4 linked regions of the Homo sapiens genome follow. The protein of the gene in region 2 interacts with the protein of the main gene of each other region in a pairwise test. Each region holds a gene or a part of one and is shown on either strand. Other genes may lie near its edges.

What was found.
Region 1: the proteins of KALRN (region 2) and SNCAIP interact in binary tests that used the Homo sapiens proteins (3 or more experiments, as listed by UniProt).
Region 3: the proteins of KALRN (region 2) and SPTAN1 interact in a two-hybrid assay, tested with the Homo sapiens proteins (one study listed by BioGRID).
Region 4: the proteins of KALRN (region 2) and PAM interact in a two-hybrid assay, tested with the Homo sapiens proteins (one study listed by BioGRID).

The regions. Positions count from the first base shown.
Region 1 is NC_000005.10:122,455,237-122,462,236, forward strand, and holds part of SNCAIP (synphilin-1), read left to right. Parts: exon of another isoform or gene 1-1,245; coding exon of another isoform or gene 1,246-1,299; exon of another isoform or gene 1,300-4,098; intron 4,099-7,000. UniProt on the Homo sapiens protein: Isoform 2 inhibits the ubiquitin ligase activity of SIAH1 and inhibits proteasomal degradation of target proteins. Isoform 2 inhibits autoubiquitination and proteasomal degradation of SIAH1, and thereby increases cellular levels of SIAH.
Region 2 is NC_000003.12:124,028,537-124,036,860, forward strand, and holds the start of KALRN (kalirin), read left to right. Parts: upstream 1-4,832; 5' UTR 4,833-5,204; coding exon 5,205-5,277; intron 5,278-8,324. UniProt on the Homo sapiens protein: Promotes the exchange of GDP by GTP. Activates specific Rho GTPase family members, thereby inducing various signaling mechanisms that regulate neuronal shape, growth, and plasticity, through their effects on the actin cytoskeleton.
Region 3 is NC_000009.12:128,555,198-128,563,450, reverse strand, and holds part of SPTAN1 (spectrin alpha chain, non-erythrocytic 1), read right to left. Parts: intron 8,103-8,253; exon of another isoform or gene 8,085-8,102; coding exon of another isoform or gene 8,052-8,084; intron 1-8,051. UniProt on the Homo sapiens protein: Fodrin, which seems to be involved in secretion, interacts with calmodulin in a calcium-dependent manner and is thus candidate for the calcium-dependent movement of the cytoskeleton at the membrane.
Region 4 is NC_000005.10:103,023,648-103,030,812, forward strand, and holds the end of PAM (peptidyl-glycine alpha-amidating monooxygenase isoform e preproprotein), read left to right. Parts: intron 1-1,483; coding exon 1,484-1,687; intron 1,688-4,534; coding exon of another isoform or gene 4,535-4,537; coding exon 4,538-4,591; intron 4,592-5,239; coding exon 5,240-5,418; 3' UTR 5,419-6,069; downstream 6,070-7,165. UniProt on the Homo sapiens protein: Bifunctional enzyme that catalyzes amidation of the C-terminus of proteins. Alpha-amidation is present at the C-terminus of many endocrine hormones and neuropeptides and is required for their activity.

The sequences.
Region 1 (7,000 bases), on a different chromosome or scaffold from region 2:
ACACACAGACAGAGAGAACTAGGCCGGTTCACTCCTGAGATAAAGCAAGAATGGATCTCTCTGGCTGAAATAAAGATTCTTCTGATAAATTAAGACTAGAGTGGGAATGTGGGCCTGAAAAATACCTAGGCTTGCCTAATTTTGCCTATGGGACCCCACTGCAAGAAGGAAAGGAACTAAAGTGTTCATCTCTCAGCTATGACTCCAAATCTTGGCCCCAAAATTTGCTTGACCACCAAATGGCTCCTCTCAGGTAGCAGGGATGCACAGAGTAGTATGACTTTGGAAGTCAGTGGCAGTCATTGGGTTGGAGTTGGGGCCAAATGTTATTGCCTCTACATGGCCCTATCAGCATATCCCTGGGGAAAAGAGTGAGGCGATGGATCCCGGTTCCAGGAATACATTGGAATTCCATTTTAGTTAAAAGAAATTGTTATTTTTTTCTGATAAAGGAAAAATAGGGACAATAAATATAACATTTTTAACATTTTAAAGAATGTCTGCTCTGTGAGGGCTCTGTTTGCTGTTTATTTTTCTAAATTGTTCACAGCTTGATAGCAAAAATCTAAATTTCTTTTCAATGCCCTTTAAAATTAGATTCAACTCTATTCCTTTGAGCAGCATCCCCAGTGTGATTCAACTGTAGAGGATCACTTGGTTTATAACAAGCAGATTTATCTTTACTTTATCTTACAAAAGACAAGTTGTTTTTAAGTTATTGTAACTCCAAGGAAATGTTTGCAATTACTTGTCTTAAAATGCCAGTGAAACATTCATTTCCCAGAGTTTAAGTCCATCTGAGATCTTTAGGGCACAAAGTGAGCAGTGATTCCAGTTACTGATAGGCAAAAGGGCATAACCCCTGGCCACCACCAGTAACACCCACTTTGACCACAGTTGCACAGTTGCCTGAGGGGTTAGGAAACGCCTAATCCTAGCACCAGCATTAGCATAGAGTCCTTAAAAATCATAAAGCAATAAACACCATTAGTGTGGGTTTTACTGCCAAGGTATTAGCCACACTGGGAACTTCATACTGAGAGCCAAGAGCTGGTATCAAATATTTTGCATAGATCTTAAGGTTGTTCAGCAGCCACTTCAAAGAGACTGGTCTGCTTCGCCAGTAGTGAGATGACATCTACTATAGTAATGGTCATCTGCTGTGCCCATTAGAGAGTCAGAGTTTAGGGTATCATTCCCCCACCCCTAACACACACAAACACACATTTCTGTCCTTATTGCCAGGACATCATACTAAACAGAAAAAGGAACAAAGATGTGGAAGACATTGGGAAGTAAAGGTGAGGCCCTGGCTGAAACCTGCTCCCAACCAGAGCATATCCTCAGCCCCACTAAAAAGCATTTCCAGAATCCTGATGGGAAAATGCAGCCAGTGCAACAAGACCCTGGTGCTGCTGAACAAATGTCTCCTTGCCATCATTTCTCTATATATTATCAAATAACCATATTTTAATCTTGCTTTCATTTTTTGACCTTAAAATGTTAACATTATTTTTAACTCATATGCTTGATTCTTGAAAGGATAATGATAAACCTACTCAATCATGTGGGTGTTGTTACCAAACTATGTAATATATGTTGAGTGCATCCTTCCAGAGACAGACAAATCTCACCAATGCAACAGTTCAGAAAAGTTTGTTAAAGCTGTTAATGAAAAAGTATTTAGTAAAGTAGTTGGTGCTTAACACTATAGACATTTGAGTTTTTGCTCAGAAACTGTAGTTTCATGTTTTTTATTTTTGTTTTGTTTTGTTTTGTTTTTGAGAAAGGGTTTTACTCTGTCACCCAGGCTGGAGTGCAGTGGTGCGATCTTGGCTCACTGCAACCTCCACCTCCCAGGCTCAGGCAATTTTCCTGCCTCAGCCTCCTGAGTAGCTAGGATTACAGGCGTATGCCACTACCACCCAGCTAATTTTTGTCTTTTTAGTAGAGACGAGGTTTCACCCTGTTGGCCAGGCTGGTTTTGAACTCCTGACCTCAGATGATCCACCTGCCTCAGCCTCCCAAAGTGTTGGGATTACAAGTGTGAGCCACTGCAACCAGCCTGTAGTTTCATGTTCTAAGCCCTGAACGGAAGTATAATTTTCTGTTTGCCTTTCTAACCTGCTGGCATCAGGCTGCATGCCCAATGAGCAAAAGTTGAAAGACAACAGCCAGGTGCCTGAAGTTGGGTGATTGCCTCTGCTCCAGAAACCCTTAGAGCAGCACTGACCCTCCCAGCTCCCATGCTTCCCCAGGTACTCTGTGCTCTCCCACAGTGTACCCCCAGGTGCTCCGTGGTTCCTCCCCACCAATGCTTCCCCAAGTGTTCTGTCTGTGTCCCCACCCAACCCCGCCAACTCTTTCTCTCTCTCTCACTCTCTCTCTCTTTCCTGCCTCCTCATGCTTCCTTAGGTGTTCTGTGTTCTCTGTCCTGCCCACACCCACCTCAGCCTCGCCTGTAGTTTCAAAGTATTTTCAGAAAGAAAACCCTCATTTTATACCATGACTTGGAGAAGAAGAGGAGGCTCTAAACTTGAACTATTTCTTCACATGAATTAAGCGACAGTTCCTTCTTTCAAATGTGCCAGGTTTTGGGGTTTCTATTGACCATTGCACAGTAGAATTACAGGGAATTGTTGCCAATAAGGCAGAGTCTTGTGTATAAAGAAAAAATGTCCATGTTATGAGAAGCCAGAATGATCACATCTTCCCAGTGTCTAAGCACAATTTAGCAAAGTCTTTATAGAGGCTGGCAGAGTTCCCAAGATGGATGCACAAATGGGGTGTCTTTTCATAAGCTCCTTACACTGGGAAAAGGAGAAAGCAGATTGCACCACAAGAAGACAGTGAAACAGTTTAGTTAGTGTCAAAGTATGATATGTTGAGACATAAAAAAGGCAGGGAAGACCCTCGTACTCTCTTAAATCACTATTCCAGGGAGGCAGGAAATGAATGTGTGGAGTTTGTGAACACCCATGAACCAACAGTAGGAAGACAACAGGAAGAGAACTGCCTTGGACACCAAAATCTTCCCACCAGACCATTTGCTTTCAACAAGCCGCTCCTGATTTAAGGATAGTCAGAAAACCTAAGGACAACTCACTTCTCCACCCCCACCCTCCTTTCCTTATTCCCCAGAGATCCAGTTTTGAATTGTGTGACCTCAAAGCACATACATGTTCTATTAATGTCATATTTGCACCACACGTCTGCCACCACTAGAGGCATCTTTGTACTTTAAAAGAACAGAGCCTGCCTGTATCTCTTAAGGCTGGAGTTTCAAAGAAGCAATAGGTTAGTTGAGTTTAAAAATACCAAATAGAGACTTTACACAGCCACTTTCCAGTGCCTTCATCAAGTATCCTTCCCCCGGCCAGTCACTGGTGCTCTTCGTTCCCACGCTGAGGACAGCGCGGATGGACAATCTTCCTAATGCCACATCCCTGGATGGCCGGGCCACTCTGCAAATATTTTCAGCTCTAAGCCACACATTTTGCTCTGCCAGGATAAGGCCTGATTCCTTCACTCAGGGAGATCATAATCAAGAGAGAATGAAAATAGGATTCAAGTAAAACATGGCAAGCTCTGTGAAAAAGGCCTAAGAGCTTCATGAAAATAGTAATCCCCAATAGCACCTTTGTACTCCACGTGTACTCCCAGTGTCTTGCTTGGTGCCTGGTGCATGATAGAGACTTCATAGATATTTGGAGAGAGGTGAAGCTAGAGAGAGGAAAAGTGGAAGAAGAGAGAAAAATATGAATAAAAAAAGGACTGAGCCTGTCTTCCCACAGCGGGGAAAAATGGTGTGTTCTTTATCAATATTGGCCTTCTGGTCACAAGTCCACCTACCCACAGTGAGTTTCCATTTGGGCACTTCAAATACAAGTTTTCATGCCTTGAACCAAAATCCATTTCTTAGTAGATGAGACTTATAGATGTGCTCTCAGTCAAAACTCTGAGGGAGATCACAGAAAATAGCAAGGTTTCCCTGTTTTGGTTATCAGCGGAAATGTCGTGCGTGCCGTGGACCATTCTACATGGATGCTGTAAGTTGCAGTCTGGTCACCATGGACTGTGGAAATCTGCAATCCATGCCTAGAAGAGTCAGCAAGTTAGAACACTTGAAAAACTGTTATTTAAATTTAAGCTTTTTTTCTTTCCAATTTTGGTCACTCAGAATGTGATTTCATATCCAAAAATGAAATAGAGGAGTAGCAAATTATCTGAATAATTCATGCCAGAATTACCCAAACACTTTCGTTCTTTGAATACTGTTAATTTGGGACTAGGTAATTGAAGGGTTCAGGGAGGATTGAATTATCCTGATATTTTTCAGATAAATGCCTCAAGTTAATATTTTACTTGGTACAGACTTAGCTCTAATCATAAGGGGTTTTGTCCTGCAGAAAGAGTGCTCATTTTAGTGTTTTTGACCACAGCACCTCTTATATTAAAGCAGAAATGCCCATCAAAGTCTAAACTTTATTATCTTTAGACTATGACCAAAACCTTCTTTTAAGTGTTCTATTTTAATTTATTGTTAAAGTGATATAGATACTTATAAGAGTAATACTAGCATTATAATAAAGACTGGATGTGCCCTGTGCCAAACCCACCCCCTTCCCTAGCCTCACTCTTTTGAATCGACCATTCACTTTTCCTTCAGGTGTTTTCTCTAGTATTCTCTATTTCTAAGTAACATGCTCATACAGATTTTCAGTTTCAAATAGTATCCCTGTTATCTACTGGCATTCTACTATAGAAAATCAAAATGATAGCACTTATAAACACTTATAAAGCACGTACAGTATCCCAGAGAATATTTCAGGTGCTTTACACATATGTACTATTTTAATCTTCTCAATGACACTATGTGGCAGATACTTTTTTTTTTTTTTAAGAAACAGGGTCTTGCTCAGTCACCTAGGCTGCAGTGCAGTCGTGTGATCTTGGCTCACAGCATCCTCTAACTTCTGGGCTCAAGAGATCCTCCCACTTCAGCCTCCTGAGCAGCTAGAACTACCAGCATGTGCCACCCCACCCAGCCAAGCAGATACTATTATTATCCTAATTTTGCGTATTGGAAACTGAGACATAGAATGATTACATATCTTGCCCAAGATTACATAGTAATGATGGCAATAAATTGTGGAGCCAGGATTTGAACTCAGTCTGGCTCCTAAATCCGTATTTTTAACAATGATCCAAATGTGTCTAGCTCCATTTTAGCATCCAACAATCCAACACTGCACCTGTTCTCTCTTGTTCTGTCTCTCTCTTTCCCTCTCTTTCCTATCTCTCACACACGCACCTACACACATGCACACATTCCTGCTTCCTCTTCCTCCCACCCCCATGAATATAGTTGTATCACTCTCAAGAGCTAAATCAGTATTCAGTGTTAATTATCATTATGGTTATTTAAATATTAATCACAAGGACTCATTATGTTGTCCTATGTTATATTTTCTTTCTCATACAATTTTATGTTTGCCATGGAAATAATTTTGGTTTCTTAATTTACAATGCGTTTCTAAACACTCTGCTGAAGACCAAACCATCTTTTAGCACCCTCAGACAGCTCAGGTGTTTGTCAGTTACTCTCTGTTCATGGAGACCCCTCCTCCTGCCCCCATCTTCACTGCTGCCTCCTGGCACTGCCACACAGCTATCATCCTGGAGTCTCTCATGCACATCATCCTGGGAATTCCTTGTGCTTCTCTCCTGTTTAGACTCTGTTTCCTGAACCTGTCTTTTCCTTTCTATTTTGTTTATTCTCATGCTTCAGTCATATATCTTCCCACCCAAGGAAGGTAAACAGTTGCTAATTTTTTTGAGACCCTGACAGTCTGAAAATATCTTCAATTTACCAGATTGAGTGTTTGACTCAGTATAGGATTCTAGGTGGGAAATTATTCTCTTTCAGAATCTTGAACACATCATTTCATTTTCTTTTGCTTCTAATGTGTCTGTTGAGAAGCCCTATTCTTCTCTGCCAATGGCTTGGAAGATTTTATGATTTCTTCTTTATCTCCAATATTTTGATTTTTTGATGCTTTGCCATGATGTGGGTCTGTTTTCATTCCTGGGCTGTGGGCACTCAGCAAGCTTTTTCAATCTGGAACCCTCAGTACTTCAGTTCTGGGAAATGTTTTGTACAATTTCTTTGAAAATTTTCTCTTCTCCAATTTCTCTGTTCCCTCTTTTGAAAATCCTCTTATTCTAATGTTAGACACACTGGACTGATCCTCAGATTTTCTAATGATTCTTCTCTATTTTTCCATACTTTGACTTTTTCTAGTTTGAATCTCTAATATATCTACTGAAACTTGCCTTTCAATCTTGCTATTGAATTTTTTATTTCTGTTATAATAATATTAATTTCCAACATCACTTTACTGGTCTTCTCTTTGTTCCTTTTTTATAGCTGTTTTTTTTTTTTTTTCTTTTTCTTTTTGAGACAGAGTCTTGCTCTGTCACCCAGGCTGGAATGCAATGGTGTGATCTTGGCTCACTGCAACCTCTGCCTCCTGGGTTCAAGTGATTCTTATGCCTCAGCCTCCATAACTGGGACTACAGCCACCACACCTGGCTAATTTTTGTATTTTTGGTAGAGACAGGGTTTCGCCATGTTGGCCAAGCTGGTCTCGAACTCCTGACCTCAACTGATCTACCTGCCTCAGCCTCCCAAAATGTTGGGATTACAGGCATGAGCCACCATGCCCGGCTTTTATAGAGTTTTATGTGCAAATCTTATTTAAATTTTTGCAGTCAAATACAAATGCGTATCTTTATCTTCCTTTTTACAATAAAGGTGTCGCACTGTACACACAGTTTTGTTTCTTGCTTTTTTTTATCTGACACGTTGGAGGACTTTATGTGTTAGTATATAGAGAGCTTCTTCATTCTTTAACATAGTTGCTATCATCTTCAGAAGTACACGGTGCTTCTAATTCCTGCATCTGGTAGTGCAAATCAGTTAGTTGGATTCCCTGAC
Region 2 (8,324 bases):
TGCTGTTAACTATAGATTTTTGGTAGATGTCCTTTATTAAGTTAAGAGAGCCCCTTCTATTCCTAGTTTGCTGAGAGTTTTGTTCAGAAATGGATATTGGATTTTTGTCAAATTATTTTCCTGCATCTACTTAGATGATCACATGGTATCGCTTTTTTAAATTTAAATTTTATTTTATTTTTTGAGACATGATCTGACTTTCATGCCACCATGTCCGGCTACTTTTTGTATTTTTTGTAGAGATGGGTTATGCCATGTCGCCCAGGCTGGTTTCAGTCTCCTGGGATCAAGGGATTTGCCCACCTTGGTCTCCCAAAGTGCTAGGATTACGGGCGTAAGCCACCATACTCGGACTTGTATTGCTTTTTAAATATGGTATATTGGTTTCCTAGGGTTGCTGTAACGAAGTAGTGCAAACTGGGTAGCTTAAAATAATAGACATTTATTCTGTCACAGTTCTGAAGAGAAGAAGTCTGAAATCAAGTGTTAGAATGGCCATGCTCCCTCTGAGACTCTGGGGAGAATCTTTCTTTACCTCTTTCTAGCTTCTGGTGGTGGCTGTCAATTCTTGGTATTCTTTGCTGCTGCGTCACTCCAATCTCTGCCTCTGCCATTACATGGCATTTTTCCCTATGTGTCTCTGTCTTCTCTGTCTTCATATGGAATTTTTTTTTCTTCTTATCGGGACACCAGTCATATTGGATTAGGGTCCATCCTAGTGACCACATTCCAAATTTGATTATATCTGCAAACACCTTATTTCCAAATAAGGCCACTTTCACAGCTACCAGGGGTTAGGACTTTAACATACCTTTTTTGAGAATACAATTCAACCCATATCATGTGGTAAGTTACATTGAATAGTTTTCCAAATGTGAAACCAACCTTGTATATGTGGGATAAACCCACTTGGTTATGATGTATTATCCTTTTTATATATTGTAGATTTTATTTGCTAAAATTTTATTAAAAATTTTATTCCTAATAAATATTCCTAAGGAAGTAGTCTACATTTTTTTTCTTATATGGCCTTTGTTTAGTTTTGGCATCAGAGTAATGCTGGCCTCATAGAAGTAGTTGGGAAATATTTCCTCCTTTTCACTTTTCTGGAAGAGTTTTTGTGGAATTGATATTATTTCTTCCTTAAATGTTTCATAAATTTACCAAAAAACCCATGTGAATCTTGAGTTGTTTTGTGTGTGGGTGTGTGTGGGGAAAGCTTTTAAGCTACAAATTTAATTTCTATAGTAGATAAATAGCTATTTAAGTTAGCAATTTCTCCTTGAGTGAACTTTAGTAGTTTGTGTCCATCTTATGAAAGTTGTCAAATTTGTTGGCATAAAGTTGTTCATAATATTCCCTTATTATTATTTTTACATTTATAGAATTTGTAGTGATGTTACCTCTGTCATTCCTGCTAGCAGTAATTTGAGATTTTTCTCTTATTTTCTGATCAGTCTGGGTGGAGGTTTTTTTATTTTATTGATCTTAAAGAACCCACTTTAGTTTCATTGATTTTTTTCTTTTGTTTTCCTGCTATTTTATTGCCTTCTGCTCTGATCTTTTTTATTTCTGTTCTTCCACTTTGATTTCGTTTGCTCTTACAGTAGAATAGGAGCTTATTGATGGGAGATCTTTATTTTCAAAATAGGTATTTAGCACTATAAATGTCTTTCTGCTTCAGCTGCATCCCACAGATTTAGACTGCCTTAGCTGCATCCCACAGATTTTTATGTAATGTGTTTTCATTTTTATTCACTTTGAGATTCTTTCTAATATCCCCCTTTTAATTCTTTTTTTGGTGGGGGTGGCAGGGGACAAAGTCTCACTGTGTCACCCAGGCTAAAGTGCAGTGGCACAATCTTGGCTCACTGCAACCTCTGCTTCCTGGGTTCAAGTGATTCTCATGCCTCAGCCACCAGAGTAGCTGGGATTGCAGGCAAACGCTACCATGTCCGGCTAATTTTTGTATTTTTAGTAGAGATGGGTTTTGCCCTGTTGGTCAGTCTGGTCTTGAACTCCTGGCCTCAGGTGATCCCCTGGCCTCAGCCTCACAAAGTGTTAGAATTATAGGCATGAGCCATGGTGCCCAGCCCATCCTTTGAATTCTTAGTAGCTCATGTGTTATTTAGAAGTGTGTTATTTACTTTCCAAATATTTGGGAGGTTTTTCTAGATTCTTTTTGTTATTGATTTCTAGTTTAATTCTATTGTGGTCAGAGAACATACTCTGATTTTTTTTTAAAAACCAACTTAGGTATAATTTATGTACCTCTTTGCATGATTTTAATCCTTTTAAATTTATTGAGATTTGTTTTATGGCTTAGTGTATGGTTTATCTTGACAAATGCTACCTGTGCATTTGAAAAAATGTGTATCTGCTGTTATGGAGTGGAATATTCTATAAATGTCAGTTAGGTTAGGTTGGTTGATAACATTGTTCAAGTCTTCCATATCTTTACTGATGATCTGTCTCCTTATTCTATTAATTACTGCATTTTACAGATATTAAATTATCTGACTATAATTATAAATTTTTATATTTCTCCTTGCAATCCTATCAGTTTTGCTTCATGTACTTTGAAGCTATCTTATTAGGTGCAAACACTCTTAGGATTGTTACGTCTGCTTGATGAATTGAAATGTTCCTCTTTATCCCTGGTAATATTCTTTGCTTTGAAGTCTTCTTTGATATTAATATAGCCATGAACACTTAACATTTTAATAGAAGTTGCCAAATTTCCTCTCAAAAAAAGTTTGTGTCATTACATAAGGTGTTCCCCCTTTCTTGTCTATATCTTGAGATTTTGATATGACCCTTCCTCTAAACATGTAATGTTTCTTCTGAATTGTGATGAGCTAATGCCTTGCCAGGCCACTGGTTCTTTAGCTGCACAATGGTGGCAATTAATTAATAGCAGCTCTGCCATCACATATGTGTGTGCGGGGGTAGGGGAGCAGACCAGGGGTTAGGCAAAGGATTAAGGGGAAGGAAGATTTTGAAAAGACAAATGAGAAGTATTTTCATTGTCAGAAAAGGCATAGGCAAAGGGGCATCTTAAGCCAGTTCAAGATACTAGGGCCAGATGAATTAGATCTCAGGGCAGTGAACTTGTGATGTCAGAGTCACTACAGAGGTCTGATAGATGTACTCAAGGTTGGAGACAGGTCTGATAGGTGTATCCAAGGTTGGAAACAGGTACTTTTTTTTAATGGGTGAAAAAAAATTAGACTGTTTGTGTCAGTGAAGAACGTGATGCGTACAGGGAGCCAGAAAGTGTTCACTAAAAACTAATTTAATTCATTTTATTTGCTACAAGTTTACACAGTTGGTGGATCTGCATAGGCCCCAGTTGCCTTGGCCCCCAGAGAGAGGTGGAACCAAACAGGTTACTAGAGACAAACAGATCCAGGAGATTCTGTCTGATGGGTTGCAGTCATTAACTTCAGACCAGTACCTGGTTTTCCTATTAGGCGTGTTTTAACACATTAGGTCAGGCCACCACTTCTCCATCTGTCTGGATGAGGCAACAGCGAACAGCGCTCAGCAGACCTTATTAAGTACTCAGGTCTTAAAGACCCTCTGTTTGGTGGGCTCTGTAGTCACTAGAACCATAAACACACTACTGGCTAATTATTGTTTAATTATTGCTTAAAAACTGATGGGCACAATACAATCACCGCATTAATTACCCCATACAGCATCTGTTTTCTTTTTTGCAGCCATCCCCATTCCTCCCCAGCCCCTCTCCCCACTTTAATTGAAATTCAGCTTGCTGTAACACCTCCTTCCTCCTGGCCAACTGGATCTCTCCATTCACATGAGGGAGAACAAAACCGAGAAGGCCCCAGGGATTAGAGAGTTTTGACAGCTGTCCAAGAGGAGCGCGGAGATACGGGCCAAGTACGGAGGCAGGACAGAGACAAACGAGGGACAAGAGAGTGACGGAGGGAGGGAGAGATAGGCAGGGAGACATCACAGGAGCATTAAACTGGACAAAGAGTCACAGAGACAGGCGGAGATGTTTAAAGGGGCGCTGAAAAGGGGAAAAGGACGAGAAAAGATAAAAAGGAGAGAAACTGTGGCGAGCTGGTGAGGAAAATGTGAGAGGCTCAGGAGGGCAGGGAGACAGAAGAGAGCTCGTCAGGAAGGAGGGGAAGAAAGGCCGGCCTCTAGGGACAGGTCAGTCCAGCTTGGAGACCGATCTGAAGATCCAGAGAAGGCGGGCGGGCAGCCTGGTGGTCCCCTCACACACCTGGGAGTGGAGTGGACGGAGGAGGTGGCCGCGGGGCCGGGAGGAGCACCGGCGGCGCGAGCGGAGAAGCTGAGCGCGCAGCGCCCGGGCCGCAGAGCCCCCTGGACAAGCCTGGCGTGTGCCCTGCAGCCCCGGGCTCGCCCGGCGGCCCCGCCCCCTCCCTGGCCCGGGCTTTTCCTGCGGAGCTCAGGAAGCCGGCCTAGCACAGCCTCGAACAATAGCTCGGGACTCGGGCTCCGCTCCCCGGGAGGCCGGCGCGGGGCCGCTGGGACTGGGGGCGTAGGCGCCGCCGGGGGCCCGCAGCGAGCCCTCGGCCCCGGCCGGAGCTTCAATTCAGCTCGGCGCTCCCGGGGTCATTGTTGGCCGGGACTGAGGGAGCGGGAGCCGGGGGAGGAGCTGGGGAGGCGGCTGCTGCGGCGGCGGCGGCGGCGGGAGCCAGAGGGGGAGCTAGAGAGCGAGCGAGCGAAGGAGGGAGGTAGCGAGTGAGCGAGTGAGCGAGGGAGGGAGGAGGTAGGGAGACAGGGAGGGTGGGAGGGAGGAGGAAAAATAAAGAGGAGAGAGCGGAGCAGGGCTGAACAATAGAGACAGGCAGACGGGCGAGCAGGAGAGCCAGCTGCCGCTGCTGGGGGACAGCGGGCGCCCAGGCAGCCCGCACCCCGGCCCCGGGCCCCGGCCCCAGCCAGACAGCAGGCGGCCAGCGCCCTGGGGAAGGGGTACCATGGGGGAGCTGGCGGCAGGCACCCCCAGCCCGCCGCGCGCCTCCGCCTGAGGGAGGCTCAGCGTCCTCTGCCCCAGCCCCGCCGCCCAACGCCCGCCCTCGAAGCTCCGCGGCCGCCAGCTCTGCGGCCGCAGCAGCTGCGCCCCGCGCCCTCCGCCCACCGGGCGCCGAGCAGCCCTCGGCCCCAGGCTTCTTCGGCTCCCGGCTGCCCGCGGACGCCCTCCCACAGTCATGAACCCCCCTGAGGGAGCAGCGGAGGAAGGAGGAGCAGCAGACTCGGACGTGGACGCCTTTTTCCGGACAGGTAAGCCGGGCAGGGCGCGGGGGGCCAGGGCTGAAGGCTACTGCCTCGGACGCGGCGTCTCGGACAAGTTTGGGGAAGGAGGGCTGTTGCTGCCGCGTGCGTGTTGGGGGGCAGTGCCCCCTCGGCGTCGGGGCTGGAGTTGCCGAGATTCTGGTTGTTATGGCAGTGCTGGCTGCGTCTGGGGAGGGCGTGGGGGCTGGGAACTCCGCGCCCCTCCGCCTTCACCCCAGTTGCGGGAGTCTGTGTTGGGGAGGTGGGAGGCGGTCCCCTCGGACCGCCTTCTCCCAGAGCGCGGGGATGGGCGGTGTTGGCTCACTTTGCAGCGCGCCGCTCCGGCTACCGGCGTCCCGGCCCCTCCCTTGGCTCCCCCTCCCCTGTGCCTGTCAGCGGGGCTCCCGGCGGCCGCCCTGGGTCGGCACCCCTCCTCGCCGTCGGGGGCCCGGGGCCCTGATGTGCACAGAGGGGCGGCGGGGACCCGGAGCCGCGCCGGCTGCAGACTGACAGGAGTGGGGCGGAAGACATCGGTCTCGCCTGGTGCGTGTGGGGAGCTGGTCCCTCTGACTTGAGAGGCAGACCCAGCTGGGAGGGCGGTGGGCGCCTCGGACCTCCCCCTTGTCCTCCTCTTCAGTTCTGGGAACGGAGGAGCTATTCATAAGAATTACTCATTCCTGGAAGTGTGAGTTAGCGTCCCTCTCATACACACCCACTAAGTCTCTGCTTGCTGTGAGGTGTAGAGCCCTGAGATGTCTTTCTAGCTCTTTGCGCCCCTGCCATCGTCCAAGTCCCGGGTCCATTGCTCCTCCTGCTCCCTGGCTACACAGTCCCTCCCTAGAACCGGCACTGACCACCCTTATCTTCCACCACCTGTGGCCCTGTTTCTCTGATGGCCAGGGATTCCCCGTCTCCCTGTACCTGTGGCTTCCACCAGCTTCTGTGTGTAGCTCCCCATCTCCCCACATGTCTGAAACAGTTTTGTCTGGAATCTTTGTCCCAAGGAGTCCAGTAAGTTACCGGGGCCCCATGCATCTGCTCTCCCTTCTGGAAAGTTGGATTAGAGGACATGAACTGGTGGGGGTCAGGGGTCAGGTTAGCTCTGGAGGGTCTCTGCACATCCATCTGTTTCCTAACCCTGTTACCTTGCCCTGGAGGTCATCTCTAGGGAAGGGGGTGGGGTGCTTTGCGGGGGAGACTTGTGGCTTTGGAAGTCAAGACTTGATTGGCTCATATGTTCATTCTCTAGTTGATGTGCAGAGGAAAAAACTGGAGGACAGGAGCTGGTGCCAGGGTCTGGGGAAATCAGAGGGAGCCCTGTCATTCTATTCTGCTTCCCAGGTCTAAGCCTTCTTTCCTTTTCTTTCTTCCTCCTTCCTTCCCTCCTTCCTCTTCCGAGACATGGATTCTATTTTCTTTCTTCTCTCTCTCTCTCTCATACACACACAGCCCAGCACCCAAAAGCATGGATTCTAAAGAGGTGGAATCTAGGGAAAAGGTGGTTCTGGGGGCTAAGTGATATTCAGAAATACTCATTATGAGGCAGAGGAGGGGAGATATGGGAATTCATAACTGGGACTAGAAACAAATTGACCAGTCAATCAAAAACCCAGCTGACCCCCCTTGCCTCCCAACTGGGGCAAAAGTCTGCATTTTCTTAGCTCTGAGGGAAAAATCTTGAAGTGTGAGCCTTCCCACCTTCCCTTTCTGGACTCCACTTTTACCTTTTGGTGCCCACTCCTCTTTCCCCTTTCCTATCATCCAAACACTAGGTCCTGTTCATTTTCTGTTCCAGGCACCCGTAGCAGAGCTCAGTTCCTGGAGGCTTGCTTATTTCTGATAATAAATTCACACAGTGTTAATGGCCAATAATAGTCCAATGTGTTACTTTTCCCAGGGCCTTTCAAAACACAAGGTGTGGCACACATTATCTAACCCTGGCTCAAATCACAGAATAAATAGCAGACTGGGGTCAGTCTCCTGTGGGATTCCTATGTTGGGGATATTCTCCCTCCTCCTTGGGCAGCCCAGTGGCTGAGCTAAGTCTGATGTGCACTTAGTATCAGAGAAAGGTTAAGTCATTGGTGCATGAGGCTGGAAATGACTGATGACCTGTAACATGTTGCAAGAGGGGGTAGGTCAAGGACTACATCCACCCTGTGTGGCCCTCTATGCTTGGCTCACTGACTGTCACCACACTTCTGGTCTCTAGCCTAGGCTCTTGCTGGGGATTCTTCTTCTTCTTTTTATTTTTATTTTTTGTTGTTAATTTTTATTTTAGGTTCAGGGGTACATGTATGGGTTATATAGATAAACTGTGTGTCACAGGGGTTTCGTATACAGATTATTTCATCACCTTGGTAATAAGCATAGTACCTGATAGGTATTTTTTCTGATTTTCTCTGTCCTCCCACCTTCCACCCTCAAGTAGGCTCCGGTGTTTGTTATTCCTCTCTTTGTGTCCATGTGTTTTCATTGTTTAACTCTCACTTATAAGTGAGAACATGAAGTATTTGGTTTTTTGTTCCTGCGTTAGTTTGCTTAAGATAACAGCCTCCACCTCCATCCATGTTGCTGCAAAGGGCATGATCTTATTCTTTTTTATGGCTGCATAGTATTCCATGATGTACATGTACCACATTTTCTTTATCTAGTCTGCCATTGATGGGCATTTAGGTTGATTCCATGTCTTTGCTATTGTGAACAGTGCTGCAATGAACATATGCATATGCGTTGGTGGAGATTCTTAAGCTTAGAAAAGCCATGTTTCTAAACCTTCTCCCTTCTGATTTCCCATCTCTGTGGAATATAGCACTATACCTGATAGGCTGGATAGATTATAAATGTATTCTATTGAACAACTGAGAAAGCTTCAAACAAATTTTCAAAGTCCCTAGCACCAGGGTTACCCCTTTCTTTCTGATGGAAAATTTTGTATGCACAAGGACCAAACTGGAAATTGCTTTGTCAAAATTCTGGCATACTGTGCTTCTAATTAGGCATGTTTCAAATTATTCTGTCATTTTGGTTCCTTGTTTGTCCTCTTCTGATCATTT
Region 3 (8,253 bases), on a different chromosome or scaffold from region 2:
ACTCTGAGAAAGTGGCGTTTTTTTGTTTTTTGTTTTTTGGCAGGGTCTCACTCTGTTGCCCAGGCTAGAGTGCAGTGATACGATCTCAACTCACTGCAACCTTGCCTCCTGGGCTCCAGCGATCCTCCCGCCTCAGCCTCCTGAGTAGCTAGGAGTACAGGCAGGTGCCAGCACACCTGGATAATTTTTATATTTTTTGTACAGGTGTGGTTTCACCATGTTGCCCAGGCTAGTCTCGAACTCCTGGACTCAAGTGATACACATGCCTCAGTCTCCCAAAGTGCTGGGATTACAAGCATGAGCCACTGCACTGGCCTATTTTCTATTCTTAAAACAGACGTCAAGTCCTTAAAACCAAAAACTGGGAGTGACCTTGAAAAGCTTAATGTCTGCTCAGAGCAGTTTTTGTAATAAAATATATACATATATATATATATATATATATATATATATATATACACATACATGTATATATATATTTTTTTTTAGACGGAGTCTCACTCTGTCGCCCAGGCTGGAGTGCAGTGGCGTGATCTCGGCTCACTGCAAGCTCCACCTCCTGGGTTCACGCCATTCTCCTGCCTCAGCCTCCTGAGTAGCTGGGACCACAGGCGCCTGCCATCACGCCCGGCTAATATTTTCTATTTTTTAGTAGAGATGGCGTTTCACCGTGCTAGCCAGGATGGTCTCGATCTCCTGACCTCGTGATCCGCCCACCTTGGCCTCCCAAAGTTTTGTAATATTTAATGATAACAGGCAGTCATAGTTTACACTGCTGCCCTAAGTCTGTCAGCCTATTTTGGAGAAGGCTGATTTCTGATGAGGACCCTGACAAGGATCACTATAATCACATTTACTACAAGGTAAACAAGACTTCACTCAGTCACCTTCCAGTTGTCTCCTCCAGCCGTATCTCATGTCAAGCTCCCTCACCAACACCAATTACAGGTCCTGGACAGGGTCCATTTGAAAGCTCAAAAAGTTCCCTTTCCCAGGAGTGCACTCTCCTCTCCCACTCCCAACCCTACCATCTAATATCATACAGATCTCGGCTGGGCGCGGTGGCTCACGCCTGTAATCCCAGCACTTTGGGAAGCCGAGGCAGGTGGATCACAAGGTCATGAGCTCCAGACCAGCCTGGCCAACATGGTGAAACCACATCTCTACTAAAAATACAAAAATTAGCCGGGTGTGGTGGCACGCGCCTGTAGCCCCAGCTACTCGGGAGGCTGAGGCAGAAGAATCGCTTGAACCTGAGAGGCGGAGGTTGTGATGAGCCCAGATCGCGTCACTGCACTCCAGCCTGTCAAAAAAATAAAAAATATAAAAAACAAATCATACAGATCTCTGAGTCCAAAGCAAATGCCTCGTCCTCTATGAAGTCTTTCTGAATCAGAAGTCTCCACTCCCTGACCACCCACCTCTATCATTCATCTTATAACACTGCCACATTCTGCCATGAAATTATTGTGTTCTCCCTACCACATTCATAAGTCCTTTAAGGAACTCTAAAGAAGACCATATTTTACTCTTACTCTCTGGGCACAGAACTCAGGACTTGGCACATATTATAGATCCAATTATATTCAGAGCTTGGAAATAAAGAAACTGCCATCGTTTTATAATTAAGTAGTTGGGAGACAGGTAATTTAGTAAGCAAGTTGCAAAGGCCAGGATGACCTGGGATCCTCCGGTTCCCAGAATATGGCACAATAGACACAGTGATTCTTAACATGATTAGAGTTGACATATTGACATATTCTTTTTTTTTTTTTTTTTTTTTTTTTTGAGACGGAGTCTCGCTCTGTTGCCCAGGCTGGAGTGCAGTGGTGCAATTTCGGCTCACTGCAAGCTCCGCCTCCCCGGTTCATGCCATTCTCCTGCCTCAGCCTCCCGACTAGCTGGGACTACAAGCATCCACCACCTCGCCCGGCTAATTTTTTGTATTTTTAGCAGAGATGGGGTTTCACCATATTAGCCAGGATGGTCTCGATCTCTTGACCTCGTGATCTGCCTGCCTCGGCCTCCAAAAGAGCTGGGATTACAGGCGTGAGCCACCGCGCCTGGCCTTTTTTTTTTTGAGATGGAGTCTTGCTCTGTCGCCAGGCTGGATTGCAGTGGTGCGATCTTGACTCACTGCAACCTCCGCCTCCAGGGTCAAGCAATTCTCCTGCCTCAGCCTCCCGAGTAGCTGGGACTACAATCACAAACCACCACGCCCAGCTAATTTTTGTATTTCTCTTCTTTTTAAGAGACAGGCTTTCACTATGTTGGCCAGGATGATCTTGATCTCGACCTTGTGGTCCGCCCGCCTCGGCCTCCCAAAGTGCTGGGATTACAGGCGTGAACCACCGTGCCTGGCCGACATATTATTTATTGATGGCTGTTTGGTTATTTATTAGTTCCTTTCACTTCTTTTTTTTTTTTTTTTTTTTGAGATGGGGTCTTGCTCTGTTGCCCAGGCTGGAGTGCAGTGATGCTATCTGGGTTCACAGCAACATCCGCCTCCCAGGTTCAAGTGACTCTCCTGCCTCAGCCTCCCCAGTAGCTGGGATTACAGGCACCCGCCACCACACGCGACTAATTTTTGTACTTTTGTAGAGATTGGGTTTCACCATATTGGCCAGACTGGTCTCGAACTGACCTCAGGTGATCCACCCACCTCAGCCTCCCAAAGTGCTGGGATTACAGACGTGAGCCACAGCACCCGGCCTTCACTCCCTCTTTATTAGTTCCTTTTCACATCTGCACTTTGGAGTGAAAAAACAGTGAGGCAGACACAGTGGCTCACACCTGTAATCCCAATACTTTGGGAGGCGAGGCGGGCAGATCACCTGAGGTCAGGAGTTTGAGAACAGCCTGGCCAACGTGATAAAATTCTGTCTCTACTAAAAATACCAAAATTAGCTGGGTGTGGTGGCACATGCCTGTAGTCCCATCTACTCAGGAGGCTGGGGCTGGAGAATCCCTTGAGCCTGGGAGGCGGAGTTTGCAGTGAGCTGAGATCAAGCCCCTGCACTCCAGCCTGGGTGACAGAGCTAGACTCCGTGTCAAAAAAAAAAAAAAAAGGCGGGCACGGTGGCTTACACCTGTAATCCTAGCATTTTGGAAGGCTGAAGGGGGTGGATTGCCTTAGCTCAGGAGTTCGAGACAAGCCTGGGCAACACGGTGGAACCTCGTCTCTATTAAAATACAAAAAATTAGCCAGGTGTGGCGGCGTGCGCCTGTAATCCCAGCTACTTGGGAGGCTGAGGCAGGAGAATTGCCAGAACCCGGGAGGCTGAGGTTGCAGTGAGCCAAGATCACGCCTTTGCACTCCAGCCTGGGCGACAGAGCGAGACTCTGTCTCTTAAAAAAAAAAAAAAAGGTGAGGTGGATGTGGATGTATTAATCATTTCTTAAAAATCAAAATTATCGGCCAGGCAGGGTGGCTCACACCTGTAATCCCAGCACTTTGGGAGGCCAAGGCGGGTGGATCACCTGAGGTCAGGAGTTTGAAACCAGCCTGGCCAACATGGTGAAACCCCATCTCTACTAACAATACAAAAAGTAGCCAAGCATAGTGGCGCACGCCTGTAGTCCCAGCTACCTGGGAGGCTGAGACAGGAGAATCGCTTGAACCCGGGAGGCAGAGGTTGCAGTGAGCCAAGATCGCACCACTGCACTCTAGCCTGGGCGACGAAAAAGCAAGAGTCCGTCTCAAAAAAAAAAAAAATCAAAATTATTTAAGATTGAGTCTTGGTAAACAATTAGGGTTAGACTTATTTATTTATATATTTCCTTTGTTCTCAACCCTCAGGAAACAGTTAAGATGGAAAAACATTGAGAAATTATGCATCTAATTTGTTTGCTTCCAAAATTTTCTTGTAAAGAAATTTTCCAAGGAAGGCATAGTTACACATGGAACAATAACGACACTGCACACGAGCTCCTGAAAGAGATGGCAGTCTCCAGGATTCGAGTGTATGGTGCTGTTCTGCCTCCTATCACAGGAGTCACTGCATTTCTAAAATCCTTTACCTGCTACAGAAATTAAATCACATTTGGGAACAGCCCTTTATGATAAGAAAATCTCCATCATAATATCGCAAAGGTTCCATCTGAGCAAGTCCCCCTGCTTGGGCCCAGCTTGCTGATTTGATCCTGCCAATCCAGAGAGACAGTTCAGCAAGGCCCTGCTGAAATTAACCAACCTAAAAGGCCCTCTTTGTCACCCCAGTGAAGTAGAACGAGTCAATTCTATACCAAGTGCTTTGGTCAGGCAATAATGGACTTTTCTTTCCTGCAGTAGATCAGCTGACGTCAGTAGGTGGGAGGTCTGCCAAGCCACAACAGGCTGTCTCTGGGGAGCTGGGTATCTGAAAGTCACCAATGTGCTCCCACTGCAGTCAGCATTCAGAATTTTCATTTGTGCAATTACAGGAGACACCAAAAAACATTATGGGTTAGTGAGAGTTTCCCCCCTCTTAACCTGACAGGGAGCTGTCTCTTGTTTATCTACACGAGTTCCAGTTTCTTTTTGCTCCTAAAAGGGTCATTTCTGCAGACTACATTAAACACAGGAAAATTCTCATAAATATCATTAAGAATTCCTGCCATCCAAAGGTGCTACAGCCTCTCACCCGAAACTGTCAGTTACTGAAATGTCAGCTCAGCTCGGCCTGGGCGTGCCACATTCCTTCCACAACCGAGGCTGCATGCTGCAAGCACCCCACCCCTTCCCTGGCATATGCAGCAGACTGATAAGGCCGACTTCACAGAGAACGTTCCAGGCTGTTCCCAGCCATATGGGATTAACGCCTTTTGAGAGCACCAGAAAGGAAAAATCTGGGAAACGTGCCATTAAAAAACAAACTCCAATCTTACCAGCCTATCTATCAGTTCCACTAACTGCCTAAAAACCACAACAGAGACGACTTCCTAGGAATGCAATCAACTGACTGCTTATCTCAAAGGAGCCAACTGTCTCTGATTTTGCCAATCAAGTCTGTTCACATAGAGACTGAAGGAGGGGAAATGAAGTGCTAAGTATATTCTCTATATGTTTAAGGACAACTTCCCATTTAAGGTAACTTAAAAAAAAAGGTATATATTTGCAAAATATTATTAGAGGAGACTGAAGACGTAGGCTATTTATAAATGCTGCAACGCAGCAGTCAAACGTTAGCTGCATCATTCAGCAAGTAATGCGAATCTCAGGGGGATAAAGCAGGAATTACAACTATGTCCTCTATTGTAATAAATAAAATGAATAAAATGAACTTGTCAGCATTCTTACAATACTACCAGATCTCGGAAGAAGAGTGGGGTCTGAATATATGAATCTTGGCTAGAAATTTCTAATATACAGCTGGGCGCGGTGGCTCACGCCTGTAATCCCAGCACTTTGGGAGGCTGAGGCAGATGGATCACGAGGTCAGGAGATTGAGACCATCCTGGCTAACACGGTGAAACCCCGTCTCTACTAAAAATACAAAAAATTAGCCGGGCGTGGTGGCGGGCACCTGTAGTCCCAGCTATTCGGGAGGCTGAGGCAGGAGAATGGCGTGAACCTGGGAGGCGGAGCTTGCAGTGAGCCGAGATCGCGCCACTGCACTCCAGCCTGGGCGACAGAGCGAGACTCCGTCTCAAAAAAAAAAAAAAAAAAAAAAGAAATTTCTAATTTAATCCAAAGATACAGCATGCTTCAGAATGATCCAGGATATCAAACACAAACTTATACACAGTATCAACTGAAAATGGATTCCTACAAAATAGATTAGACATGAATATCTTTGTCTTATTGATGAACGCCAAGAGACAGCTGTTTGAGGCAGTTCTTGGTATTTGGGGAATTTTCATTCCCCAAATAAAAATTTGGGGGTATTTGGGGGCATAAAATTTGGGAGTATAAAAATAAAAAAAATTGGGGGGTATTTATGGGATATATAGCTCTATCTTCTTGTACAGGCAGAGGCAGTGGGTGGGAATCCCACTGCGTTAAGCAACACAAAAGACTGCAGATACAAACATTTTCGAACCAAAGGTCAAATGCTCTGGACTCTGTAAACCTGGCACCTGCAGTGAGTGCAGTCAGTTTCTCTATGGAATCCCAAAAGAGAGAAAAAAATTATAGTGAAGCTGAAAGGAGTCTCTATTAAAAACAAAGCATTGGGATTGCCATTCTTTCAGCAAGTTGAATGCACTGGATGTAAGAGACATTTGGAATACTACAAAATGAATTCTGATTCTCAGGCAGGACACCACTAGACATACAGTTTTGCAAGAAAGGGATTTTTAGGGACTAACAGGATGAACGGGTCGTTTGGTCATTTGGTTATGGAAAAATTCATAAACATCACCCAAAGCAAAAGATCATAGAAACCATTCATCAGTTGCTTTTGTTGCTTAGTCAGAACCCAAATGTGCAGAACCAACAATGTCTTTTTTCCGTGGCTTAGGATGCCAGCCTATTACCAAATTTCAGATTTGCAAAGCAAGAGAACTATATCCATGGATGTGGAAGGGCTTCCCTAAGAACAAACCACCAAAGAATTGATTAGCACTCATAAAATTGTATACCAGTTGATTCTCAGATCAAACAAAATTAACTCAAAACCAGCTTAGCTGCAGATTTTAGTGGCAGATTTGATGGTAAGCAGAGAGGTCAATAATACATAAAGGATGACTGAACACCATAAATAAAAACAACAAATATTTTTGCTTAAACCACATTCCAATCAGGATTGTGGATCAGCATGTCAGCCTTCAAACTGATTAATTCATTTCAACTTGTTAGCGCAATTTTGCAGAGGTGAGCAGGGACTTAGCTTTAAGAAAGCAAAAGATTCATACTGCATTGCATCAAAATCCAGAAATGCAGAGCAATATTGAGAAAACTTACTTCTGATTGCTTCCCAAATACTATCTTGCTGCTACTTACCTTTTAACCTGCAAAATTCAGATGAGAGGTATTTAAGTTCCTTATTGTTACTATGACTCAAAACAGGAAATGGTTATAATGTGGCCCATTTTTATAAACCTCATTTAAGTAAATAACTCATCTGATTTATAAAAAGGCCTGCCTTGGATTTATCACCTATAAACACTAGAAATTTCCAATGTTTATATTTTTTATTTTGGGATATCAAGATACTAAATTTTTTTTTTGTGAAAAAGGTCCGACTTAGAAAACAAAGACTGTACACAAAGAAAACATATAAAGAGAGCTGTTTTTTAATTTTTTTTTTTGAGACAGAGTCTCGCACTGTCACCTGGGCTGGAGTGCAATGGTGCAATCTCGGCTCATTGCAACCTCCAACTCCTCGGTTAAAGCGATTCTCCTGCCTCAGCTTCCCAAGTAGCTGGGATTACAGGGGCCCACCACAACACCCGGCTAATTTTTTGTATTTTTAGTAGAGATGGGGTTTCACTATGTTGGCCAGGCTGGTCTTGAACTCCTGACCAAGTGATCCACCCACCTTAGCCTCCCAAAGCGCTGGGATTACAGGCATGAGCCACCGCACCCAGCCCGAGAGCTATTTTTTAAACATGAAAAGGTAAGCTCTATTATAGAAATTGTGGTGGAAGAAGTCAATGCAACAGGAAACAAACCCAAGTTTACAATATTTGTCAAATTTTAAAAACACAATTTTTACTATGTATTTTCAGATTATTTTCTCCAAATATCTAGGATAATATGTTTAGTCCCTTGGTTCTTAAAAACCAAGTAGCCACCAATAAAAAGTCAGCAAACACTACATGCAAACACCAGAATGGTGGTAAGAAATTAATATATTCATGCCTTAAAGAGAAAGAGAGGGAGGTTAAAAAAAAAAAAAAAAAAAAAAAGGCTTTGCAAATTTTCAAGTAAATTTACTAATACTTCTGATAATTTAACACCAAAAAACCCCAAACAAATCCTAACCAATTTGTTTAACAGAAACGTCATGCAGGCAGGGTTTTTTTCCCCCTTTCTTTGGATCATTCAACCTCTTTGACACGAATATGCCTTCACTGCAAGCCAGGCAAAACCAAAAAGGCAACCCGTTTTCTGCATGCTCGTCAAATACCTGGACTCTGCGTTTACGAAACGATGACAACATGATGGAGGAATGTGGAGTCTAAAGAGGGAGGGGGAAGAGCAAGATAACAAGCTTCTAAGGGCAAACGGAACAAAATCATGAAGAAAACAGATTATTTAAAAAATATGAATACAGATTAAAAATCCAATTTCAGATATTTTTTCAGTGTCTTCTCTCTGACATTCTGTAT
Region 4 (7,165 bases), on a different chromosome or scaffold from region 2:
TCAAGAGTCACTTGAGTGGACAAAAGAAAACAAAGGATGGTCTCCCTTTAGCCATAGTACAGGGAAGGAAAGGAGGACTATGAGGTCATCTACAAAATGGTGATGATAATAATAGTGCCTACTCATGAGCTTGGTGTGATGATTAAAGGAAACGATGCCTGACAATGGTGTAAGTACTCAATAGATATCACTGAGACTGTCAAAGAGGCTGGCTCAGAACGTTGAAGCAAAGAGTTGGAACCTACCATCTGTTTGTATTATAAATTATGTTGACAGCATCTTAAATGATTTGGGAAACATTTATTTGGAGGAGTATCCAGTAAACTACTAAGCTGAATCTATACCTACTAAACATTAACCAAAGATTTTCCTGATTGTGTTATCCCTACCATTTTGTCAAAATCTTCTTGAGGCTTTACAATGCATTCTGTATCGTAGGGCAGAAGGGCATTCCAAGAAGTCGAAATTTCAGAAATGTATGACCTGTGAGTCTTCCTGCAAATGTGGTTGTAACTTTTAGTCTGGGCAAATTCTTACTAGTCTTTGTACACTAGAGTTTCTATACAAATACACATATGTGCTTCTTGTAGGGCAAGGATGTCTCAAGGCTCAACCTCATTTTCATATCATTAGTTATTAAGATCACTGCAGCAGCTTATATAGTTTCATTGCATCAATTTCCCAAACAGTACTTTAGGCTTGATACCTACCCAGTACCTGCCAATGTTACAGAATAGTTTTAGTTATTATAATAGTTGTTCTTTTCATCAGTAACAAAAGGATATACAGTTCATCTGTCTGTACTCACATTTTGCTGAAAACAATATAAAAGAGCCTGAAAAGCACATAGTTCCTTTTTTCTTTTGTAATCCTAGCATTAATGTGTGCAGCTGTCCATGTGAAATACCAAAAATTAATTGAACATGAAAAATATTTTTAAACTAAAGATACAAGGAAACAAACACTTATTATATACATTTTTTATGACAGACATTTACACCCAACAGTTTTATGAAGGAGGTCCTATTATTACAGTTTTATAGATGAAGTTACTGTGGCCCAGATAATTTAAGTAACTTGCCCAAAGTTATACGGCTAGTATATAGGAGAATTGGGATTTGTACCCAGGTTTGTTTGATTCCAGTATGCACACCAGTTCTTTCCCCTACACAGTACTGTCTTATTAATTTTACCTTTGGAAAAATACAAAAGGATATATATTCTGTGGAATTATAGCTAAAGAGCATATTAAAAGTAGAACAAAAGAAAACTAATTTGAAGGTGAAAAACCATTCAGTGGAAATAACTAATCACAATGCCTGCTGCCAGTTTGGTAGATTCAGGTATTAAAACATGAAACCCCTGTACACTGGAGTCAACAAGTTCTTTGTGAACAGTTATTGATTTGACTGGGTAGGGGTGGGTAAGGGGGTTTTGAAATCTTTGAGTCAGTTGAATATTGTGAACTCTTCTTTCCCTGAAGAAGCCGAGGCAGTTGTTGAAACCAAAATGGAGAACAAACCCACCTCCTCAGAATTGCAGAAGATGCAAGAGAAACAGAAACTGATCAAAGAGCCAGGCTCGGGAGTGCCTGTTGTTCTCATTACAACCCTTCTGGTTATTCCGGTGGTTGTCCTGCTGGCCATTGCCATATTTATTCGGTGGAAAAAATCAAGGGCCTTTGGAGGCAAGTAAAATGAGCCCCGTGAACTTGGAACCTGCCTTTGAAAGAGTGTTTGGCCTAATTATCCTCAGGAGTTTGATTGGGATTTTTTTCACTGTATTTGTTTTTTTGTTTTTAATGCTCTCTACCATTTTTGACATTATTGTCTATGTTCCAAATATTGCCCCTAGTTAATATCACAGTACAAAATAGTATCTGGAGACTCTGAAATTTGGATAGTTAGATTAAAATATAACCTTTAATACTATCTTTTAGCAATTGGCTTAAGTCCAATTAATGAGTCCATACGAAATTGTAGGTAGTAGAGTCAGTATAAATTAGCTGAAGGATCAGAGGAGGAGATACCTGCTGTTAGGAAGAGGCCCAGTCCTCAAAGTACCTGGGTCAGTTTTTCAGGTTGTGTTTTTCTCCCATTAGGCTCCTAGCTACATGACCATGGGCAAGTTACTTAATCTCTCCAGACCAGTTTTCTCATAAAAAAGTGGGGATAAAATAGTTACCTTACAAGGTTGTACAAAGATGAAATAATGTACATAAGCATTTATCAGGATACCTGGAACCTAGGAAGTACTCAATACCACCAATGGTTATGATGAATAATCATTGGTAATAAAGTAACAAAAGGCATAAGAAGTTATAAAAAACACTTGTCTTAAACCTTAGTTTTCAAGAAAAATTAATTCTATAACAAACCATTTGATAGTTTTTGAATAGTCATAATTTAGCTCATCAGCCTTCCATAACTGAACAAGGCAGAGTCCAATACCAGAGTTAGTATTTTATGAAATCATTATCACAATATAGGATCCAAGAGCTGAGTTTATTTTAGGACATCTAAATAAATAAACAACCCAATTCATGTTTCTTACCGCTCAGTAGCAGTCCCTTGGCTGGGTCCCCAGGTCCTAGAGCAAGTCTATAGCTGTGTGTGGGAAGAAATCCATGGATCAGGGAGAGGGGGAGCATTTGATCAAGAAACAGCATCTGATCCTATTTCAGGTCAAGGCAGCCATGGCAGGGATTCAGTGCCCTTGGCAAAGCCCTGACACAGAAAAAGGCATGGAAACAGAAAACAGAAAATTCAGTTTAATATGTTGTAAAAGGGAATTTTTATTAGACTTTATTTTGCTTTTCATGTGCCATCAATAAATCTCTATAAAAATATAGTTAACTCTTCCCAAAAAGGATTTCTATTAAGTCCATGTTACAGATCTGGAACTGTCATAAGTAGGGGCAAAGAGAAATAAACATAGTCATTGTCTTCATGGTGTTATATAGATGCTTCAAAAGAGCAAGAATCCATATCTTGAGTACTGATATGTCCCCAGCACAAATAATAGTTTCTGATACTAGTGGTTTAATAAATTGTTGTTGAAAGAATGAATGAATAAATCAACCGAGCTCACAGAATAGATAACATATGAAAGAGACATGAAACAAAAAAGTTATAGTAGAGGGTGGTAAGTGCAGTGATAAATACACAGAGTAGTAGGAACAGTGGGGCCTAGGGGAAGGTGGCAGGAATTGTGGTAACCAACCCAATCTGGCAGAAGCAGTGGCTAGGGAATAAGGAAGATTTGGTCTCTCCTGTTTGTTGTTAAGCACATGTGACACAGCACTGTTACATGATGCTGACTTTACAGGAATGTGTTAGGAAGGTAGAGACCCAGGTAGAACCCTAGAAAATTGCCATTATTTGACCGTGTTTTACTTAGAAAAATTGCAGTTTCATATGTAGTAGTAGTAGATCAGCTTCTCACTTTTTTTCTGAATTTGTTCTTGATAGATCTTATCCAGTCTAAGGTTATTAAAAACCCTAATGGACCTTCCATTTATTCATCATTCCTTATTATGTATTGACTCCATATCAGACACTGTGCTAGGCACATGGGGATACAAAACTAAGGAATGTCCTTGCAGAACTTACAATCTAATTTGTTGGCTTTCTAACAGTCTTACCAGATTCTTCTTCCCTTCTTGCCTATTTCTTTCCACATCACTGTCTTCTCCCTTTCCTCTCATCTGCGCTATCTTTTTCCATGATGCTGACTTCAGTCCTGGTTAAAGACCTAACAGGACAACCCCAGGCCTGACTTTCCTGACCATAGCCCTTGAGGGAGTGATGAAGCCTGGGAAATAGTACAGGGAGAGACACAGCAAGGGAAAAAATGAAACCCATTGGGAGTTCTGTCTCCCCATAAGGAAAGAGAGTCTGTCCTTTATGGAGATAGGCAGTCCTGTTGGGAACATTTAGGTCACCTACTATGCTTGGAAAATACTCAGGGTGTCATGTGCTTTCCCTTCACTTATGTCTTACATAAAGAAGAAACGATATACATGGATCCAAAGCTTTCTCAAGCAAGATACGTACTGTCAGTAGAAAGAGTAAAGCTGAAGGCAAATATCCCTAAATTGTCATAACCAAAGATGGAAAAATTTTATAAATTATTAATAACATTTCCTGATTAAAAAAATAGCTATGATTTATTGAGCATTTACTGTATATCTATAGGTAGTGTTCTAAATGTGTCACATGCAGTGTCTGATCTCAGCCTTACAGACAGGGATTCTCCTTGACCTTTCTTTTGTCAGAGGAGAAAACTGAAGCTCAGAGAAGTAATTTATCAAGACTGCACAGCCAGTAAGAGACACGGGCAGGAGTCAAACCCAGCTTGGGCCCTTTATGTATGTCTCAGAAATATACCGCCTTTCTTAAAAATTAGAATTGCATACAGACAAGAGCCAGGCCTTGCTTTATCATTTACCAGTTCCTATTTTAAGTTGGAAGTTGAGTGCATGGGTTGAGAAAGATGACTGGGACTCATTTTGAAATGTGCCATCTTTTTTTAGCAGATTCTGAACACAAACTCGAGACGAGTTCAGGAAGAGTACTGGGAAGATTTAGAGGTATGCCTATGACCTTTTAGAACCCTTCATGTTTGGTTCAAAGTCAACAAGCACATGTCTTTTAAAAAGCAAGGAGATATTTCATATTTTGTCTCTGAAGATAAAGCACCTTGTATGCAGCTTAGCATCTCCCAGAGTAAATACAGAATGCACACCATAAACTAAACTGAAGTGCATGGGTCTGGCAGCAGATTTCCCAGTTTTATTTTTCCCATTCTGCATTATCTAATTCTCTTCCCCTGCCTTTTACCTGGCTTCATTTGTCTTCAGCAAATTTTCTGTCACTCCTGTTGGCATGTCAATGTTTGTCATAGTAAAGATGACCTTTTCTTAAAGTCATTGAAATGAGGAGCTGCTCCAGGGAGGCTAGTTCTGGATAGAGAGCTAGAGAAAAGCAGGAGGTGAAAGTGAATATGAAATATTCCTGCAGAAATACATAATACTTGGGAGCTTTTGTTTTTCTTCTTTAATAGTAGCATCTATATGGCTCTGTAGGATACGTCTCTGTCTGTTTTTCTATTTTATTTTTAAATAAAATAATCTCCCCTTTCCCATCCCCACCTTCTGACTTTATCATTTAAGAATTTACAAGGTAACAGACATTGCTGCAAACTTTACCCAATTCTGTTATTGTTTGCTTTTTTTCAGGAAAGGGAAGTGGAGGCTTAAACCTTGGTAATTTCTTTGCAAGCCGTAAGGGCTACAGTCGAAAAGGGTTTGACCGGCTTAGCACTGAGGGCAGTGACCAAGAGAAAGAGGATGATGGAAGTGAATCAGAAGAGGAGTATTCAGCACCTCTGCCTGCGCTCGCACCTTCCTCCTCCTGAAAACCAAGCTTTGATTTAGATTGAGTAAGATTTACCCAGAATGTCAGATTCCTTTCCCTTTAGCACGTTTAAAGTTCTGTGTATTTAATTGTAAACTGTACTAGTCTGTGTGGGACTGTACACACTTTATTTACTTCGTTTTGGTTAAGTTGGCTTCTGTTTCTAGTTGAGGAGTTTCCTAAAAGTTCATAACAGTGCCATTGTCTTTATATGAACATAGACTAGAGAAACCGTCCTCTTTTTCCATCATAATTCTAATCTAACAATGGAAGATTTGCCCATTTACACTTTTGAGACTTTTTGGTGGATGTAAATAACCCCATTCTTTGCTTGAACACAGTATTTTCCCAATAGCACTTTCATTGCCAGTGTCTTTCTTTGGTGCCTTTCCTGTTCAGCATTCTTAGCCTGTGGCAGTAAAGAGAAACTTTGTGCTACATGACGACAAAGCTGCTAAATCTCCTATTTTTTTAAAATCACTAACATTATATTGCAATGAAGGAAATAAAAAAGTCTCTATTTAAATTCTTTTTTAAATTTTCTTCAGTTGGTGTGTTTTTGGGATGTCTTATTTTTAGATGGTTACACTGTTAGAACACTATTTTCAGAATCTGAATGTAATTTGTGTAATAAAGTGTTTTCAGAGCATTAGCTGTCAGTGTATTTTCCAGTTTTTGCGTATTTGCAGATTTTACATACAACTTTTATAATAATTACACAAACCCACAAATATTAGTGAAACTTACTCGATGTCTTCAACTAAAAGAAATGTGTGTATTGTACAAAATTTAGAAGATACTTTAGCCAATATAAATTAAAAACCAGCCTGAGTTTACATAAATTTGTAAAGTCAGGCTCTTCTAAAATCCAAAGAGGGTTTTTGCCTATATATCAATCAGAGGATAAATACTTTAATAAAAGGTAATCACAGCTAAGTGGATACCTGTGTCTCAAATTACATATGCAAATGATCCATCAGTAGGGATCACTAATAATAGTTTTCCTTTTAAAAAATAATTTCAGGGCAGGTACAGTGGCTCAAGCCTATACTTCCAGGACTTTGGGAGGCCAAGCAGAAGGATTGTGGGAGGCCAAGCAGAAGGATTGTTTGAGCCCAGAAATTCAAGGCTGCAGTGAGCTATGATCAATCCACTGTACTCCAGCCTAGGCTACAGAGTGAGATCCTTTCTCTAAAATAAAATACAATTTCCATGTATCCATAGGAATATATTCATCTTTTACAGTGATTGCAGATTAGTTTTAAAACGTCTTTTTCGTAATTCGTCAATGCAAGTTAGTAAGAACCAGATAATTTTCCATTTTAAAATGATAGGAATCTAAAACTCTTTTTCAAAAATGCCAACCTGTTTTTCCGGCATCATAGTAGTTGGAATAATACAGATATAATTGACTAATCATAAAGTACATGAGAGTACAGAAGGGAAATTTGGAAACGGTAAGTCTGCTAGGGCATTACAATCCTGTCCTAGCACTCCACCTTTATTCTGCCAACCTGGGTTAATTAAAGATGGTAGCCTGGAAAGTAATGAATGACATTGACTTCAGGCAATCTTTCCACTGATTATTCTTGGCTGAACTTCATTTATCGAGTCAGAGAATGCACTGCCTGAGAAATGTCCCAGAGGAGTGAATCCTAGGCCTGGCCACAGTAGAATCGCCTGGAGAATTTAAGAAAAAAATTGTTGGGCACTCACTCTTTCCAGTGATCTTTATTTAGTTGGCTTAC